Linked DNA regions of Homo sapiens. The gene in region 3 interacts genetically with the main gene of each other region. Each region holds a gene or a part of one and is shown on either strand. Other genes may lie near its edges.

Region 1 (7,208 bases), on a different chromosome or scaffold from region 3:
TTGACCAGACCACCTCCCAGGTTTTAATTTTTAATATCATACCATACAAGGTATTGTCTTTATAGATTCTTCCCCAGCCTGCCACTATTATTCTAAATTTGCAATACCCGATTCCCAAAGCTCCACGATGATAATAATAACAATATGACCATTTACTGAGGGCCTGTTATGTGCTAAGGTCCAGTTCTAGGACCTTATCTGTATTAACTTATTTAAGGTGTAGTACAGCTTTATTTTCATCCTGATTTTACAGACAAGGAAACTACGTCTCAGAGATACTGTATGACTTGTTGAAGGTCACACAGCTGGTAGGTGATGGAGCCAAACTTCAAAGTTCTCATGTTTTTCTCCATCCTATTATACACAGAGAATGCTGTGTGTCAGACTTCCAGTTCGGGGTTTGCAGTGTACTAACCATACTTCCCTTGCCAGGAGAGCTTAGCCACCTGGATTCAGATACTGGTAAGGCAGTCACCTTTCCCCAGCAGTGTAGAGAGGGCAAATGAGATAATGCACCTGTAAGTACTTCAAAACTTTTAGCATGCCGTACAAACAGAAGGGATAATTAAGAGATTATTGTGGACTATGCAGATAACCTTGTTTATTTAAAGCACCTTAGCCCATTGACACGTGTGGAGATGTCCAGAGACCTGGTCAAATCCTCAAATCGAATATTGCCGACAGCAGAAGAATTTCTCCCATAAAATGCCATAATGTGTCATTTAAAAATGTAAGTAACTCTTGGCCAGGCCCGGTGGCTCACACCTGTAATCCCAGCACTTTGGGAGGGCGAGGCAGGTGGATCACTTGAGGTCAGGAGTTTGAGACCAGCCTGGCCAATGTGATAAAACCCCACCTCTTTTAAAATACAAAAATTGGCCAAGCATGGTGGTGTGTGCGTGTAATCCCAGCTACTCAGGAAGCTGAGGCAGGAGAATAGCTTGGACCTGGGAGGCAGAAGTTGTAGTGAGCCGAGATTGCACCACTGCACTCCAACCTGGGCAACAGAGCTGCATCACAAAAAAAAAAAAAAAAAAAAAAAAAAAGAAAAGTAAATAACTCTTTAAAATGTTTAATGATTACATAAACACAAGGCATAAAGCTATAAAGATTTAAAAAAAATAGAGACAGAGTCTTGTTCTGTTGTTCAGGCTGGTGTGCAGTGGTACAATCATAGCTCACTGCAGCCTCAAACTCCTGGACTCAAGCAACCCTCCCACCTCAGCCTCCCACCATACCTGGCTTATTTATAAGGATTTAAAGTTAGTTGTGAGTGCTGTCTGGAGCACTTGCTGAAACTGTTTTGTGAATCAGTTTTTCTTAATTTCTTAAAACTGAATGAGGAATAAACCCTGTGTGAACTGGATGAGCCAAAAACCTGTTCTGAATTCTAGTCCACTCTTTAGTGATTCAAAATTCCCTATTTCTGTCTCAGAAACATTGCTTTCTTTGGATTCTCCAATTTCTCCTCCCTTCTATTTCAATACTAGTGTTTGGCCTTTTTTTTTTTTTTCTTTTTTTTTTTTCTTTTTGAGACAGAGTCCTGCTCTGTTGCCCAGGCTGGAGTGCAGTGGTGTGATCGCAGCTCACTGCCACTTCAGCCTCCTGGGATCAAGCAATTCTCATGCCTCAGCCTCCTAAGTAACTGGAATTACAGGCGTTCACCACCATGCCTGGCTCATTTTGGTATTTCTAATAGAGATGGAGGTTTCACCATGTTGGCCAGGCTGGTCTCAAACTCCTGGCCTCAAGTGATCTGCCCACCTCAGCCTCACAAAGTGCTGGGATTACAGCCTCACAAAGTGCTGGGATTACATGGTGTGAGCTACCATGCCAGACCTAGTATTTGGCCTTCCCGTTTTTGTTTTTTTTTTTTTGTTTTTTTGAGGCAGAGTTTTGCTCTTGTTGCCCAGGCTGGAGTGCAATGGTGCGATCTCGGCTCACTGCAACCTCCGCCTCCCGGGTTCAATCAATTCTCCTATCTCAGCCTCCCCAGTAGCTGGGATTACAGGCGCCCGCCACCACACCCAACCAAGTTTTGTATTTTTTAGTAGCGACAGGGTTTCGCCATGTTGGCCAGGCTGGTCCTGAACTCCTGACCTTAGATAATCTGCCTGCCTTGGCCTCCCAAAGTGCTGGGATTACAGGCATGAGCCACCGTGCCCAGCCATATTTGGCCTCCTATGGGAGGTCATTTCCACAAACAAGCAAGACTTTCTAATCATTTTCCAAGGATTACAAAATCTTGACTCATAAGTGATACAAATTCATGGCATGATTTGTAGTATTTGTAGCAAGTGACAAATAATACATATTATGTGCATTCAAGGTTGTCAGGGAGTTGGTTTTTGTTTTGTTTTGTTTCTGAAACAGGGTCTTGCTCCGTTGTCCAGGCTGGAGTACAGTGGCACGATCATAGGTCACTGCACCCTTGACCTCCTGGGCTCAAGTGATCCTCCCACCTCAGCATCTCAAACTGCTGGGACTGTAGTTGTGAGTCACCGTGCCCAGCCTTCTGGGGAGTTTAGATCTGTGACTAAGCAAAAAGAACAAATCTGGAGGCATCACTTTACCTGACTTCAAACTATACTATAAGGCTATCGTCACAAAAACAGCATGGTACTAATATAAAAATAGGCACAGAGACCAATGGAACATAATAGAGAACCCAGAAATGAAGCCAAATACTTACAGCCAACTGATCTTCAACAAAGCAAATGAAAACAAAGTGGGGAAAGGACAGCCTATTCAGCAAATGGTGCTGAGATAATTGGCAAGCCACATGTAGAAGAATAAAACTGGATCCTCGTCTCTCACGTTATACAAAAATCAACTCAGGATAGATCAAAGACTTAAATCTACAACCTGAAACCATAAACATTCTAGAAGATAACATCGGAAACATCCTTCTAGACGTTGGCTTAGGCAAAGACTTTGTGACCAAGAACCCAAAAGCAAATGCAACAAAAACAAAGATAAATAGATGGGACTTAATTAAACTAAAAAGCTTCGGCACTGCAAAAGAAATAATCAGCAGAGTTAACAGACACCGCACAGAGATTGGACTTTGGGGACTCAGGGTAAAAGGTGGGGGGTGGCGAGAGATAAAAGACTACACACTGGGCCAGGCGCGGCGGCTCACGCCTTTAATCTTAAGGGATACCTGAGCTCCTTCTAGGAGGTTCTGATTCAGTAGATCTGGGAGAGTCAAGAATCTGTAATCAGCTGATCTCTATCAAGAGCTGATTTTGGGCTAGCTCACGTGCTAAGTGTTTGGTAAGTTCATGTTCTCAGTTTATATCTTCATGACGATTTGAGCAATGTCAAGCCATAACCAATGTCGTCAATGACACCCCCGTTTTACAGATGAGGAAACGGAAGCTAAGAACATCCAAAAGGGTTTGTTGGGGGGGGTGGGGAAAGCTGCTAAAAAAAGTTATGCAACTAGTACACCTAGTAACTGGTCGACTGGAGATTCCAACTCAGGCCCAGCAACTCCAGACCCCACTCTCTCAATCACTGTGAGACATAAGACTTTTGGGGGAGCTTCTGGTGATTTTAGTGATTAGTCAGCTTTTCGCAAAGCCTCCTAGAAGCCCATGCCACTCTCAAAGGGTGCATGTGTTTGAAATTTATGGCCCATCCCCCTCCAGTGTTTCTGGAAGGAAAATAGTGTAGAAACAAGATCATCGGAGGGAATACGACGAGCAGCTGAACCTCTTATCAGCATTTCCCAGCCTTTGGGCTACTCCGCGAGGTCCTGGTCTCACAGGCGGACCCAATCTGGGAACCAAGGGAGAATCTTTCTGTACACCTGGCACTTCTCGTCACGCCCCGTCCCCCGAACACCCAATCCAAAGCCCGTTGGGCACGTCTGATGTCCACTCAGAGCAATTATAATTGGCCATGGCGGACGATCGCTCCGCCTCCCGGGCGACCCCGCCTCCCTTTCATTCTGAAAGAAAGAACCTCAGCCTGGGCGTCCAATGAGAAGCGCCTTCACCTCAAAGATCCCGCCTCTTTCGGCGTCGACCCCGCCCCGAGGCCGGAAGGGATGCCCGCCTCCCTTGGCGAGATGAGCCAATCGAAGGGCTCTCACGGCCAGATGGACGGCAGCCGGCCCAATCCGCCGGGCCTCACGCGGCGCCGCCCGCCCCTCCGCCGGGCCCGAGTGGCGGCCGGGCGACGAGTGCGGGCCTCGGAGCGACTGCAGCGGCGGCGGCGGACGCGGCCTGAGGCGAGCGGCGGGGCGTGGGGCGGTGCCTCGGCCCGGGCTCGCCCTCGCCGGCGGGAGCGTCCATGGCCCCCGGGCGCCGGCGGGGCGCGGCCGCGGCCTGAGGGGCCATGTCCGGGGTGGTGCGGACCCTCAGCCGCTGCCTGCTGCCGGCCGAGGCCGGCGGGGCCCGCGAGCGCAGGGCGGGCAGCGGCGCGCGCGACGCGGAGCGCGAGGCCCGGAGGCGTAGCCGCGACATCGACGCGCTGCTGGCCCGCGAGCGGCGCGCGGTCCGGCGCCTGGTGAAGATCCTGCTGCTGGGCGCGGGCGAGAGCGGCAAGTCCACGTTCCTCAAGCAGATGCGCATCATCCACGGCCGCGAGTTCGACCAGAAGGCGCTGCTGGAGTTCCGCGACACCATCTTCGACAACATCCTCAAGGTGACGCGCGCCCCCCGCCCAGCACCTGCACCCAGGTGGGCCGGGGCGCTAACCCCCGCCCCGGGCCCCTCCGTGGTCCGCCGCCGCGGGCGGGGACCCCTGGGGCGAGGATGCTGGATCCAGCCCCGCCTGCACCCCACTCCCCCCCGACCCATTCCCCGAGGCCTGCTGGCGTCGTCTCTGCCCCACCCCGTCTCGCCCTTTTTGAGATGGGGTCTCGCTGTGTTTCCCAGGCTTGAGTGCAGTGGCGCCCTCACAGCTCACTGCAGCCTCGACCTCCCAGGCTCAAGCCCTACTCCCTCCTTAGCCTCCCGAAGTAGTGGGATTACAGGCGCGCACCACCAGCCCAGCTAATTTTTAAGTTTTTTTTTGTAGAGATGGGGTCTTGCTGTGTTGCCCAGGCTGGTCTCAGTCTCCTGGCCTCAAGTGATCCTCCTGCCTTGGTCTCCCTCAAGTGCTGGGATTATAGGCATGAGTCATGGCGCCCGGTCTGCCTCTGCCCTCTCTAGGGTGCCTGGGGACCGTGGGAGTGGGAACTCGGGCCAGCTTCTGGGGATGGGGAGTGGGGGCTTGGCACTTAGCCCCCTCCTGGATGTGCCCTAGCAGAATGGTATCTGTCCATTTCCCACTGGAAGATTTGTGGGATAGGAGCCCAACCGGCCGTGCCCTCCGGCTGAGCTTAGAAGAAGAGCAGTGGAGACTGGACGGGAACCAGCCATGAGTCTCTTTTTACTTTTCTGTTTTTTTAGAAAGGCTCTCACTCTCTTGCCCAGGCTGGTCTCAAGCCATCCTCCCACCTGGGCCTCCCAAAGTGCTGAGATTACAGGTGTGAGCCACACTTTCTAATACGAAAACTTCAAATGTATACAAAAGTAGAGAAAATAGTAGATTGACTGTAAAGTACCTACAGCCCAACTAAAGCAGTCATCAATTCTGTGCCAATCCTATTCACCTGTGCCCTCCCCATGGTCTCCAAGCAAATCCAACTTTGTGTAGTTGGATTAGGAAACGTTTTAGGATGTATATGAGTGGCTAAAAGATGAGGCCTCCATGTAAAAACACAACCGCAGTACCATTAGCAAACCTAAACATTAGTAATAGCTCATTATCACCAGATATCCAGTGTTCAGAATTCCTCCATTGTGGCATAATTGTTTTGTGTGACTCGACATGCATTGCAATGAATCTCCAGATTCTCCTGTCTCTTGCTTCCTTTTTTCTCTTCGCCATATTTGTGAAAGAAGCTGTAGAAGTCGGCCAGGTGTGATGGCTCGTGCCTGTAATCCCTGCACTTTGGGAAGCTGAGGCAGGAGGATCACTTGAGGCCAGAAGTTTGAGACCAACCTGGGCAACACAGCAAGACCTCAGTGCCACAAAAATGAACACATTAGTTGGGCATGGTGGAATGCACCTGTAGTCCCAGTTGCTTGAGCGGCTGAGGTAGGAGAATTGGTTGAGCCTGGGAGGTTGAGGCTGCAGTGAGCCATGTTTGGGCCACTGCACTCCAGCCTGAGTGGCAGTGAAAAAAAATAAAAGAACCATAGAGTTGATAAAGTCGGGGTTCCAGTCTCTCAGTACCGTGAGCCTGTGTTAAAGGGCCTCAAGGAAGATCTGGAGGAAACTGATGATGAGGGAACAGTGCAGCCTTGCTTACACCTAGATAGCGTCCTTTGTCCTCCCTCCCTTTTTCCTTCCTTCCTTTCCTTCTTTTCTTTCCTTCCTTTCTTTTCTTCCTCCCTTCCCTTCCTTCCTTTCCTTCCTTTCCTTCCCGCCTTCCTTTTCTTCCTTTCTTTCTACCTTCCTTCCTTTTTTCTTTTCTTCCTTCCTCCCTTCCTTTCTCCCTCCCTCCCTACCTCTCTACCCTTTCCTTGTCCCCTCACCACTTTTTCCCCAGCCCATTTTGGGGAAACCAAGTTAGAGGCGAGGACAATCATCTCAAAGCAGAGTCGGAGAGAAGTTTGCCATGCCAGAAAACCTGCCTGGAGACTAGGTTTTATGGTGCCTGGGAGATTTTAAATTTAGCAAAGCCCCGTAGAAACCTATCGGGTACATTTGTATCACTTACCCATAAGGACTCCTGCCTCAGCCCTAGAGATGAAGTGACTCCTTCCTGGGGTCTCTGTGCTGGAATCCTGGCCTCCAGACTTCCAGGCCAGTATTCGCACTTGACATACTTCTCATGGAAATGTTTCATTTTAATAGAGCTCCTTTAGGATTGTGAAGGGAAGAAAATAATTTGATAAAACACCCTTTTTCATTTTACCTCTTTCCAAGCCTCTCGGTGCGTCAGAGCTCTGGTCAGATACTTCGTGAACTTTGAAGACTAGGTGCCCAGCTTAGCTCACTGGGAGCGTCTGTGTTCAAGTGCATTTGGCTGTCTCAGGGCCTGCCCTGTAACTTCTCTGTTAAAGATCCTGATTTTATTGTTGCTGCTTGCCCAGACCTCAGAACCAGGCAGGCATAAAAGTATAGCAGTTTGACTGTCTCTAGTTTCTTCCAACTCAGTAGATGGAGAAAGTATTTGGAAACATAGAATCTGAAATCTAAATCCCTGT
Region 2 (7,893 bases), on a different chromosome or scaffold from region 3:
AACTCTGTCTCAAAAAAAAAAAAAACGAAAAAAAAGTTATGCTTGGCTTAGCTGTGAATTTTGATCTAACCATTATTCAATATTCTGTTTTAACGACTGCAAGAATGGGAAAATAGGGAAGCTGTACTTGCGTTGGGGGTTGGAGGGAAAAAGAGAGCCAACTCATCATCTTCCACAGTGGGAAGTCAACAGATAATGCTTAAAATTGAAAAATCAAGAAGTATCAACTATAAGCCACAAATGGCAAAGAATTACAAGTGGTTGTTTCTGGAAAGGGAGAAATGTAACTTGGATAAAAGTTTAAAACTATAAACCATAACAAAACAAACTTTGGCTTCTGTGCCCACACATTTTTACATTTGTTTGCTTTTTCTTTGTTTCCCTAATAACAATCTGTTTTGAAAAAGCCCATCCTTGTTTCTCTAAACAAAAGAGTATGTAATTCTCTACATCTATACTACAGTAGCTGCGGTCATCTGAGCTCTGAGCAGTCAAACATGGTGGGGAAATTAATTGTTACAATCCAATCCCAGAAGAATTGGTTGAGCTGGGGTAGTGACAATAAGGCAAGCCCAAGCACAGGCGTGTTTGGAGGTGGAGGCAACTACTAGGCCCCTTCCTTCTGGGTTGTTTCTTATTTTTCCACAAACCTTTTATAATAGCATAACCACATCGTACAGGATAATTTTACAATTGCCAGTGACCATGAGCCAATTTCACTTTTTTCCAACAGACTTGAATGCCCAATTTATGATCGTAATTAGTCCAACCAAGGCAGCTGGCCCCCAAGACTGTTGATCTGGGTTTGACTTCAGTAACTCCACTTTGCCTGCTGTAGACTGGACAAGAAGGGAGCATAATAAAGGCTCTGAAGCAGCAGACATCCAAGGAGCATCCACGGGGAACCAGCACCATGCTGAAGATCAACACTCATGCTGACTCTGCAGACCAAGTACCCCTGCCCTGAACAACATGGTGATTTGTCTAGGGGTAAGAATCTGGGAGGGGTGGGGTGGAAGCTAAGGAGCTGGAACAGCTGGGGCAGGGAGGAGAGGCACCAACCTGGTCAACCTGGAGGAACCTGTAGGCAGAGGTGTGGCTGGAGGCCCAAGGCCCTGTCTCCCAGCACTCTGGATACCCGGAGAAAGGCAGAGAGGCCAGTAATTCTTCCCCAAGCGTAAAAGTAGGCCAGACACTGCTCACAACCCTTCCAACCTCCCTATCAAGGGTCAACTTAAGGAAGCAAAGGTTACCATTATCTCAGCTTTATTTTCCACGGTTTGGTAAAACATAGCTGCTGCCCTTGAGTAACTAGCTGCTGAGAAAACATGATTATCTTGATAAAGAATAAAGTAGGTTGAAAATGCTAGAGCATACATTAATATTCTATATCCTTTCCTAGTTGGGAAGATGTGAAAATTCTAGTTGGACCTATGTGGGGCAAAGGTATTGCCAACTAGAGTAAAGCACTGACTGCATGAGTTTACACTTGGCCTATACAGTTCCACAGACCAGAATGTACACACCCTTGTGAGAAGAGTCAAGATCATTAACATAAACACACCACAGTAAGCATCTGCGTTGGCAAGAGTGTAATATATGGATCAGATTAACTGGAGTATGGGGAAAGTGTAAGTCTTCCGTAAACATTGAAAATGTAACTAAACTAAAAAATACTTTCAAATACATAATGTGAAAGTTACCCATACTTCTATTTTCCCCTTAGAAATAAATCTTAATATCCCTTACTCCAGGTGATTATTGCAGAGTAAGCAGCTACCAGTGTCACGACCTAAACTGTTAAATCCCAAACTTTATTTGGGAGATCCGCTGGTTTGTTTCTTCCCAGCTCTTTAGCAGAGAATAATCTAGAAGTGAGTAAATTCTCAGAATTTCCCAAGAGGAAAATGAGCATTCACTGGAAAAATACAAGGAATACGCGCAAAACTTATAACTATTTTGGATAATCTTCAAACCCACTTAGCCACCAGCCATCCTGTTGTTCCAAGTTAACATTAAGATCAATCTTTCGAATCAAATATTCCAGTTTCCAAAGAATAGCAATGGATGAGATTGTTTCCAAACCTGGTACACACCACCATGTTACACGTCCACGGGAAAAATAAAATAAAATAAAATCCACAAGAAATTTAGGATTAAAGAAAATTAGGAAAGTGTACACTCCCAGGTCAAGGCCCTAGTTTTTCCAAGAAGTACATACATTGGCCGGGCACCTGTTTTCAATATTCAAACACAACTTCCCGGGGCGAGGTGGGCGGGGTATTGGGGGGGTGGGGAAGAGAACGTGAACTTCACTGGGTGAGTCACGTGCAACTGCGGAACATCTTGGCCGATACTGCCAAATTTTTTTTTTAATACTTTAAGTTCTAGGATACATGTGCACAACGTGCAGGTTTGTTACATATGTATACATGTGCCATGTTGGTGTGCTGCACCCATTAACTTGTCATTTACATTAGGTATATCTATCTCGACACTGCCAAATTTCAATCAAGATCGCGCCGCCGCCCAACCCGAAAGGAGGCATCAGCCCTGCTCGCCGCTGGGACGTGACCCCAACGCTGAACTTGCCGCAGGGCGGCCTCAGGCCTGGAACTTCAAGAAAAAGGGGCGGGTGTTCCTTAGGAGAGGTCAGTGCGGGAGTTGGAGAAGTGGAGAATCTACTGCCGGCAGGAAGGCGAGGCTGCGCCACTGCGCGCACCTGTCCCTCCTTCCCGGACCGAAGAGGGGACCCAGAGACGGCGCACCCGCGCTCACTGCGGCACGGAGGGGAGAAAATCCTTCCCCGTTCCTCGAGGGGCGTGTGGAAGCCGCCTCTTGCCGCGCTCATCCCCCTCCCCACCCGTCCTCGCCCGGAGTATCGCACTCCCGGGGCCGCCCCAGCCCGCCCGCGGCGCCCTTACCTGGCTGAAGCGCGGCTGCTGGGCGGACCTGGGGAGACTGCGAGGTGCAGTCTGCGCCGCGGAGTCCGGAGCCTAGCGCCCCAGAGTCCAGAGCAAAGCGCCCCGCCCCGCCCTCTGATCTCCCCGTCCCGCCCCCAATCACCCCGCCCCGCCCCGATTGCTGGCCCCGTGGACGCCCTACCCCGCCTCTGATCCTGCAGGCCCGCCCAGTCCTCGATCGCCCCGCCCCGGTCGCTTGGGCCCTGGGTGGCAGGTTTGCGCAGCCCTGCGGCGATTTCAAGGCAAGTGACCGGAATGGGTCGGAAGCGCGTCCCGGTGAGTTTCAGGGAGCGTCCCTTAGGTTTCCGGGGGCGGCGTTGAACCTCCCTAGCCCCAGTCTTCCCATCCCAGGAGACCCGCCCCTAGTGGCTCGAACGCCCCTAGCCAGGAGAGCCCCGAGTAGTGCCACTTGTGGAAGACTACGTGCCTGTCGGAATTAGGAACCGCACCTCCCCTTCCGCTAAGCGGTGGGAGGCCAGGCGGGTGACGCGGAGCAGTGGAGCCATGCAGCCTGTTTTACCAAAAGAGTAAGTGGTTTTCCTGTGAAACCCGAGGGAGCAGTGCATATCTGATACACTTAGAGGGTCACGTGCACTATTAATGTGTTAACATTAAACTCACTGAAGAGTAGAAAACACATGTAAGACTTAACTGTGTGCCAGGCACTGTTCTAGGTACTTCACATGTACTAAAAGTTCTCTGAAGCGTATATTATCAGAATCCCCCTTTTCACATACGGTGCAAGTGAGGCAGAGAGAAGCTAAATAACTTGCCTAATGTCACCCAACTAGTAAATTGAGAAGCTGGGTTGAGAAGCTGGGCTTCAAATCCAGGTCTTCCTCCTCTGGAGTCTCCACTGTTATTCACGGCTATCCTGAATCAGCAAAATCTGTGTGCATCCTATACCAGGAACTGTTCCCATGCCTGGGGAAGATGAGGCAAGGACTCTGCCATTAGGAAACTTTTATTCTACTGTAGGAGAAAGACAATAAGTGATTGTCGACTAAAATTTAAAAATCAAGCTGTTAAAGAATGAAAGTTAGTTTTATTCAGAAGTCTTACTGAGGACTAGAGATGGAGGCCTACAGCCCTGGAGGAGTCTTTTAGAGAGATTCAAGCAGATCCCTCCAACACAGAACTTCCCTTCTCAATTTAGAAACAGTTGGTGAAGATTCAGTATGTGTAAAAGCACATCACAGTTTGGGCTTAAGAGTACATCTGTTTATAGATTACAGAAGCATAATCACTAACCTCATCAGACTTTATCTTAGGTGCAGTAAAAGGCAAGGGCTCAGGCAAGAGACGTGGGGGATCCTGTGTTCTATCTCGTTTTGTCTTCAAAGCATCTTTCCGCCAGCTGCAGGTGGTCACAGAGTCAGGGGCTGTGTGAAATTATGCTGACAAGCAGAAATGAGCAAGCATGGCTTCTTAACGTTTGTTACTTGTCTCACATGATCAACAGGCAAGCAAAAAATTAAACCACTTCGTAAGTGAGGTGTCTTGACTAAAATAAAGCAGGGTGATGGAATTGAGAGTGAAAGGGAGAGGGAGGCTACTTTAGATATGATGTTACTGGAGGCTTCTCTGGGGTAACAGTGGAGCTGAGACCTGAATGATAGGACAGACGGCCAACCCAAGGCTGAAGCTAAGGGAATGGCAAGTGCTTTGATACTTATCACACCTCATGCTTGCTTGGGACTTAAAAGTAGTGCCTTCCTATATCATTTCTCCTTTGATCACTGTAATAACCCTGAGAAGTCTAACAAGATTCCATTTAATACAGTGGTCCCCAACCTTTTTGGCACCAGGGACTGGTTTTATGGAAGATAATTTTTCCATGGACAGGTGTCAGGAAGAGATGGTTTGAGGATGAAACTGTTCCACCTCAGATCATCAGGCATTAGATTCTCGTAACGCGTACACCACCTAGATCCCTCGAATGCACAGTTCACACTAGGGTTTGCACTCCTGAGAGAATCTAAGGCCAAGGCTGATCTGACAGGAGGCGGAGCTCAGCCGTAATGCAGGCAATGGGGAGTGGCTGTAAATACAGATGAAGCTTTGCTCCCTTGCCCACCGCTCAACCGCTTACCTCCTGCTATGCGGCCAGGTTCCTAACAGACCTCAGACCGGTACTGGTCCACAGCCTGCGGGTTGGGGAACCCTGATTTAACAGGGAAAACAATAACAGCAACAACAACTGAGGGTCAGAGAGGTTTCAATGACTTTCCAAAAGTCAGACAACTATCTAGGAAAAGGGGAGATGGGAAGAGGGCACAGATTTGGACCAAGGCCTTCTGATTACAAATCCTCTCTCCAGTGAGGACTTTGAGTATAATGACTAGTACTTTGAATGAATCTAGTAAAATTTCTTTTTTATGATCTACTCTCTCCTCCCTACCCGAGTCTCTCCTGCCTCTTGTCCCATTCAGGTACTTGTTTTGGCTAGTTAACGTAATTTCCCCTAGCACAGATGTACTTTGAGGGGACAGGACCATAAACCATCTGAAACTCTATGCAAAAAAACTGTGTTGGGGGGCAGGAAAGAGAGTTATAGATATATAATTATAGTAATACAGTTAATTTTCTCCCAAGAAAAATGCTTATGTACGTATATTTTTAAGTGAGAGGACTTAGAACTTTTATCATATTGACTGATCCCAAAAAGGTAAGAGCTACTGCCTTAAGGAATTAACTGATATTATGATGGTTAGAAGAACCAGTTTCCAATTCGCCTTGCCTGTTCTTGGTAGGTGATGGTAGCTCATATTCTTGACAATGGTAATGAGGATCTCAATGTTTATGAAGTTTGAAAAGGCAGAAAACCCAGACCCTTACATAATTTCTTCATAAAGTTTAAATTAAAAGAGAGAAAAGTGTCTGTATTGTCCCTACTAACTCTCAGAAAAGCCAAAGAGAACAGATCTGTAAATAAAACACCTAGATCCAACATAATTCTTAATAGTTGGGGTAATTTTCATAAAGTTATAGTTTTCTAAATAAGACATTTGTTACACTATCAATCATACAGTTTAAGTAGGCAATTGCCACAGGTATACCATCCATAGATCACATAATAGAGAACAATGGCAATTTTTTTCAGCAAGGTGTTGAGAAAGAGACAGAGAGACAGACAAAAAAAAGAGGCCATTAGGGAACTTCAACTACATTAAGGAAAAGGTGTAAAAACTGAACTCAGAATGTGGTGGGATTAATAAAAAAGATTTAGTCTTTCTTTAATTTTTATTTTTTAGGTGAAAACAGAATACTACATTTGGGCCTGTATAATTCAAACTTTTACATTCGTCCCTAGTCAAAAGAAGGAATCTAGTAGTTGACTTAAAAAGATTTCTCCCCCTGCCTCCAAAAAGAAGACTCAAACAATATTAGTAAAACCATCTTTATTTTAAGAAAATCAAGATACAGAGAAAAAGGTATTAATATAAACTTCTTGGGAGACAAGACTCTCCCTTCTTACAAGATATCGCTATGGCTTCCATAAAGTTTATTTGTTTAGATGATCAGTATCAGGTTGACATAATTTCAGTTCCTTGAGAGACGAAAATGCCTCTTTTTAACTTACATGTAGATTCCACATGGTACAGAAGAAGACATGCAGAATCAACCTGGAAGGTTTGCAAAAATATATGTGTGTATATATTTGTATTTATAGCTTCTTGCCTTTTTTTTTTTTTTCTGAGACAGAGTCTTGTTCTGTTGCCCAGGCTGGAGTGCAGTGGCACAATCTCGGCTAACTGAAACCTCTGCCTCCTGGGTTCAAGCAATTCTCCTGCCTCAGCCTCCTGAGTAGCTGGGATTACAGGTGCCTGCCACCACGCCTGGCTAATTTTTGTATTTTTAGTAGAGATGGGGTTTTACCATGTTGACCAGGCTGGTCTTGAACTCCTGACCTTGTGATCCGCCCGCCTCAGCCTCCCAAAGTGCTGAGATTACAGGCATGAGCCAGCATGCCCGGCCAGCTTCTTGCATTCTTTTGTGCAAGTCACTGGTTTTATTTTGTAACCATCTTCCTACTGAAAAGGAAACTGGCCCATCATAGATAATTAATACATTTGTTGATGAATAAATGATGATGACAATGACGATAATGCAGACCTTATCAGTCTTCCATGGAGAGTCTGTTCCTACATGAAGATGACTTCATTGTGATCCTATGATATGTCTGCTTCTCCTTCCATCATGTGCTGAAAGTAGTTGCTTCTTTAGAACTATTGCATAGAAGGAAGGAGTTTCAAATATTGGACACAGAATCAATAATCATATTTCTGGGAAGAGATGCTAAATAAATAATTCAAAAGAAATAAAAAGCATCATATGCAAAGTATATTTATAAGATCATTATAATAATAAAATAAATGTCCAATAATAAGGAAATGTTTAAGTAAAATATATTAACAGTATGGAATGTCAAGCTGTCATTTAAAATTACCTATGTTGGTCAGGCATGGTGGCTCACACCTATAATCCCAGCACTTTGGGAGGCTGAGGCGGGTGGATCTTTTGAGCTCTGGAGTTCAAGACCAGCCTGGACAACATGGCGAAACTCCATCTCTACTAAAAATACAAATATTAGCCAGGCTTGGTGGTGCTCACCTGCAGTCCCAGCTATTCGGGAGGCTGAGGTAGGAGGATTGCTTGAGCCCAGGAGGGCAGGGTTGCAGTGAGCTGAGATCGTGCCACTGCACTCCAACCTGGGCAACAGAGCAAGAACCTGTCTCTAAATAAGTTAATTAATTAATTAAATAATAAAATAAGATTACCTATGTTAATGAAAAAGAGATAGGAAATAAAACTTATGAACAAGATTATATTTTTAAAAGTAGAACACAATGCTTTGAGTACCTGTAATTGCAACTAAATACAAATTATGTGGAGGAAAACTGAAAAGTAAGAATTATGATTAACAGTT
Region 3 (4,054 bases):
AGCACATACACTGGACACTGCAGGCAAGGTGTTGGTAACTGCCTGCTCTAGGATGAATAGTAGCGTTAGCAGCACCCTACAGAGGGTAAGTTTCAGAATTGTAATTTGAGAACTCCTTCAATTATATTGACTTTCTTTGGTTTTCCTTGTGCATTAGGTATATATTTTTTGAAGTATTTTTGCCAACTAAAATGAAGTCTGTAAATTCTGTTAATAAACAAGGAGTTCATCCGTTGCTCACATCTTTCATTGGTGCCCTCTGAACTCTGTGGGTTGCTAGGATGTAATTTTAATGCTTCCCTGCAGTCCAAAGATGATTTTTTCACCACAAATGGTAAGGGATGCCCACCTACTTTTATAAACACCACTGCAACTTAACAAGTTTATTTATCTATGTCCAGATTTCTGTTTCTGTCCTAAATTGATCTGTGTTTTTAGGTGGATCAACTTGGATCTTTAGACCTCATCTATAAATTGAAATTATATTTTTAGTCATAAGCCAAGTACAATCTAACTCAGAATGGGATTAAAAATTTTAGAAGCAGAAGCTAATATATAAATGAAGTTTGGGATTTGGAACTTTCTGTATCTCTTAGGAGGAACAAGTAAAAACCAAATGGTTACATTGTGCTGCTAGAAATAATGTCATTCTCAATTAAAAGGGTTACACCTGTAGCCACTTGACACTAACACCATCGAGGGCAATTAATCAGGAGAAAAGTAAATATAAAAACTTTGCTCTTAACGTCACACACTACAGGGTAATTATGTAATTCTCTAGCACTCAATTAAGAAGCTTGTAGGTTAGCAAAATTTCAGTTTCTCTAGTTCAGCCAGTGTCTTGTCCTTAGTAATTATTTGCTTTCCCTGCAGTTCAATTTCTCCTTGGAACTCTAACAGGACTAACTGGAAAAATACTTTGACCATAGCTCTAGTACTTCCAAATAAATTCATATCTAGATTTTCAAACAAAGCCCCAAGATGAAGTCTAATTCTGAAAATATCTCACAATTTTTGAATGTTCTTTTTATCTTACCGACCTAACTTCTCTTTTCCCTCCCAACTTGGCCTCCCACACGTTCCATTTCATTTTGGCCATTATAGTCACATCCGTTTGACTTTGGTTGTGACATCTTCCTTTCAGGATGATGGAATTAGATGCAGTCTGTCTTTGAGTGAGACTGGTCACCATCAGAGGAGTTTTTTCTAAGTGACGTGACTAGAAGTTGAAATCTACTTCCCTGCTAAAGGGCACAGGGGTGGTGTACAAAGAAAGCTACCTTCCCAGAGCAAGCAGGCTGCATTTTAGCTATGGAAGTGACCTGCTGTGACACTGTGCTCTCTTCTGTGGGCTTAATGGTTCCTTTGCTATGAAGTGGCAAATTACATGTAGAGTGTCTCCTTCCTTTTCAGAGAACAGTTAATCAAGGCAAATCAGCAAGCCCCCAAAGTGCTGTAATTTAACATCATGATTACCACCTTCGAAGCTATATATTTTGCATACTTTAAAATCACCTAACTTGGACTGCTTGAATTACATTGGCTTTTAGAACCGAAATTGTAACTATGTATTGTATTTCATGGGAGGTATATTTTATGAGCTTTTTGGCTTTCTTTTTTCCCACAGCAACTGCCAATGAAGGATGAATCCCCTTTTTAAAAAGTTGTTGTTGTTGTTGTTTATTTGATTTTGAGTTAGGAGGGATAATAGAGAAGTCCATTTAAAAATTATTTTTAGAAGCTAAAGAAAGTAATTATGCTTCCTGTGAATTGTCTTTTACTGGCATCTTTGTTTTCCTCTTTGATGTTAGTAAATTTGGTGTAATACGTGGGGCTTCCATATTTCAAAGTGGAAGCTTTCTTCTCTGAAGTCGATATATGGTTTTGAATTACTAGAGCTTTGGTCAGTATTTCCTTCCCTATATGTCACAGAGGGCACCACTGAGAACTGCGTGCATAGGACCTCAAAATACAAAATTAGCAGGGCCTCACAGTCAGCTTCCTCATGGCTAGTTTTTCCCCCTTATATTACAATTTTTGTTTTATAAGTCATTTTTTTCCTGATATTTCCACCACTTTTCAGAGTCATCTACAAAATTTTTCTTTCCTCAAGAAAAGAGTTCCTTTTGCCTTATTCCTTATGCCTTCCCCACTGGTATTGAGGGTTTTGATAATAAATTGGTAGGAAAAAAAAGTACCTCCTAGAAGGAAGCCTTCCCCACCATTTCCAGGTGCCAACTGCTAAGCAGATATATTCCAAAAATGGTAACTGTCATGTGCACACTGTTGGTTATTTTTAATAAGCCTCTTCCTACTAGAACATTTTATTTTCCTTGTTCACCATACAATCATGTACTCTTTAACAGAAATTGCTTTTAAAAAATATCTGGAACTATCTTTAAAAAAACTTTATTAATAATCATGTATTTTTACTGATCACATTTTGAAATGCCTAAAAGACTTTATTGTTCTAATTATCCAGATGTACCTTTGTAAAATAGCTCTTTTATGAATTAGCTGATAAGGCTGTATGTTTCTGGAACAAAATATTGGTCATCTAAAAACTTTCTGTTTTCTGGGGTCTGGGAAAATAGAAAATAAGATTTCAAATATTAAATAAGCTTAAAGGAACCAAGCATGTGACTTTTTATTTGTATTCTGGTTGATTTGTCTTGTCCAAGTTATATTAGAAAAGTTGAGGAGTCGAGGAGCCTGTAATTAATTTTCCTGTCAGTGACTGTCAGACATCTTCCTGCTTATTAGAGCATCCCTAGCAACAAGGCTAAACCTTCATGACAGTGCTGGCAGGTGGGCTTGCCCTAGCATGTGGGGCAGGTTTGTTGTTTTTTTAATAGCTTTATTGAGATATTCACATATCATATAATTCATCCATTTAAAGTGTATAATCAGATGGGTTTTGGTATATTATTGATTTTTAATTGTGGTGAAATATATATATAACAAAATTTGCTATTGTAACTATTTTTAAGTATAAAGTTCAGTGAGGTAGGCCAGCTTTTATGACGCACCTGAAGATAACTTTGGTTTTAATCCTACCCTAAATGAAGCATATGCCTCTATTTTTCCTGTCCCCAGTGCTGGGCTTCTTCACATACCAACATTTCTGTGCTTTTACCAACAGCATTTTAGCTCAGAAGGCTCGCTTACTTTGGGCATTTGCTGTATTTTGGTTTTGAAATACTTGTAATTTGACTTATTCTTGGGATAATATTTTAGTTTTCAGTCATTCAAGGGCACATTTGGCTGACGGAGCTAATAAGCGTAATAAAATGCTTAGTAGTTTATACCATCTTTTAGTTAAACATTTTAAAGATTAAGACTATTCAAATGTACTTTGCGGAAATTAACCTGTTTGTATGCCTGGCTTTGTTTACAAACATATATCTATATCTATATATATAGATACAGATACAGATACATATCTGGTGGAACAAAGAAATACCTGTACCATTCCCACTTGCTCTTTGATAGCCACCTCCTAGGAATGGAGACAATAAAACTCTGTATTTGCATGTGAGCAGTTACTTCTATTTTTTACTGCCCTCTTTCAAGCTAAATGACTGGTTTACCAAAGGTTTATTACCAACTTCAAATATAAGAGGATCTATCCTGATTAAAAAGTTGCTTTTTAATTGAACTCGTTATCTCCTTGATGTTTTATGACAAATGTCATAAAGCATGAGAGATAAGTAGCTGGATGTAGGTGTTTCCCATTTTCTCTATAATGTCAAGGATAATTCTTGTTACTAATTGGAAACACTTCCTCAACTTTAGCTGTCAGGGAATATGTTTGTTTTGCCACTTATTTTTACTAGTGAGACATCATCATTCCCTTAGCATCAGCAGAGGCCTTGGTTTGAGATCATTTAAGGTATGTAGAGCTCTCTTTCTAGATTTTCCCCCTCAATTGATTAGAGTGCTTTTGGACCGACCTGTAATTTAAGGCATTTTATTTTAAGGGATCTTTTTCTTTGTACGTGTGATCAGAGGGTTGTGGCTGCCTGAACACATGCTAATCAAAAACACTAATTAG

The links.
Region 1: of ARHGEF12 (region 3) and GNA12, changing one enhances a phenotype caused by changing the other (phenotypic enhancement), as found in Homo sapiens cells (one study listed by BioGRID).
Region 2: of ARHGEF12 (region 3) and TEC, changing one enhances a phenotype caused by changing the other (phenotypic enhancement), as found in Homo sapiens cells (one study listed by BioGRID).

What each region holds. Positions count from the first base shown.
Region 1 is NC_000007.14:2,841,298-2,848,505, reverse strand, and holds the start of GNA12 (guanine nucleotide-binding protein subunit alpha-12), read left to right. Parts: upstream 1-4,197; 5' UTR 4,198-4,344; coding exon 4,345-4,653; intron 4,654-7,208. UniProt on the Homo sapiens protein: Guanine nucleotide-binding proteins (G proteins) are involved as modulators or transducers in various transmembrane signaling systems. Activates effector molecule RhoA by binding and activating RhoGEFs (ARHGEF12/LARG).
Region 2 is NC_000004.12:48,266,828-48,274,720, forward strand, and holds the start of TEC (tyrosine-protein kinase Tec), read right to left. Parts: upstream 3,012-7,893; 5' UTR 2,925-3,011; intron 1-2,924.
Region 3 is NC_000011.10:120,486,400-120,490,453, forward strand, and holds the end of ARHGEF12 (rho guanine nucleotide exchange factor 12), read left to right. Parts: 3' UTR 1-3,538; downstream 3,539-4,054. UniProt on the Homo sapiens protein: May play a role in the regulation of RhoA GTPase by guanine nucleotide-binding alpha-12 (GNA12) and alpha-13 (GNA13). Acts as guanine nucleotide exchange factor (GEF) for RhoA GTPase and may act as GTPase-activating protein (GAP) for GNA12 and GNA13.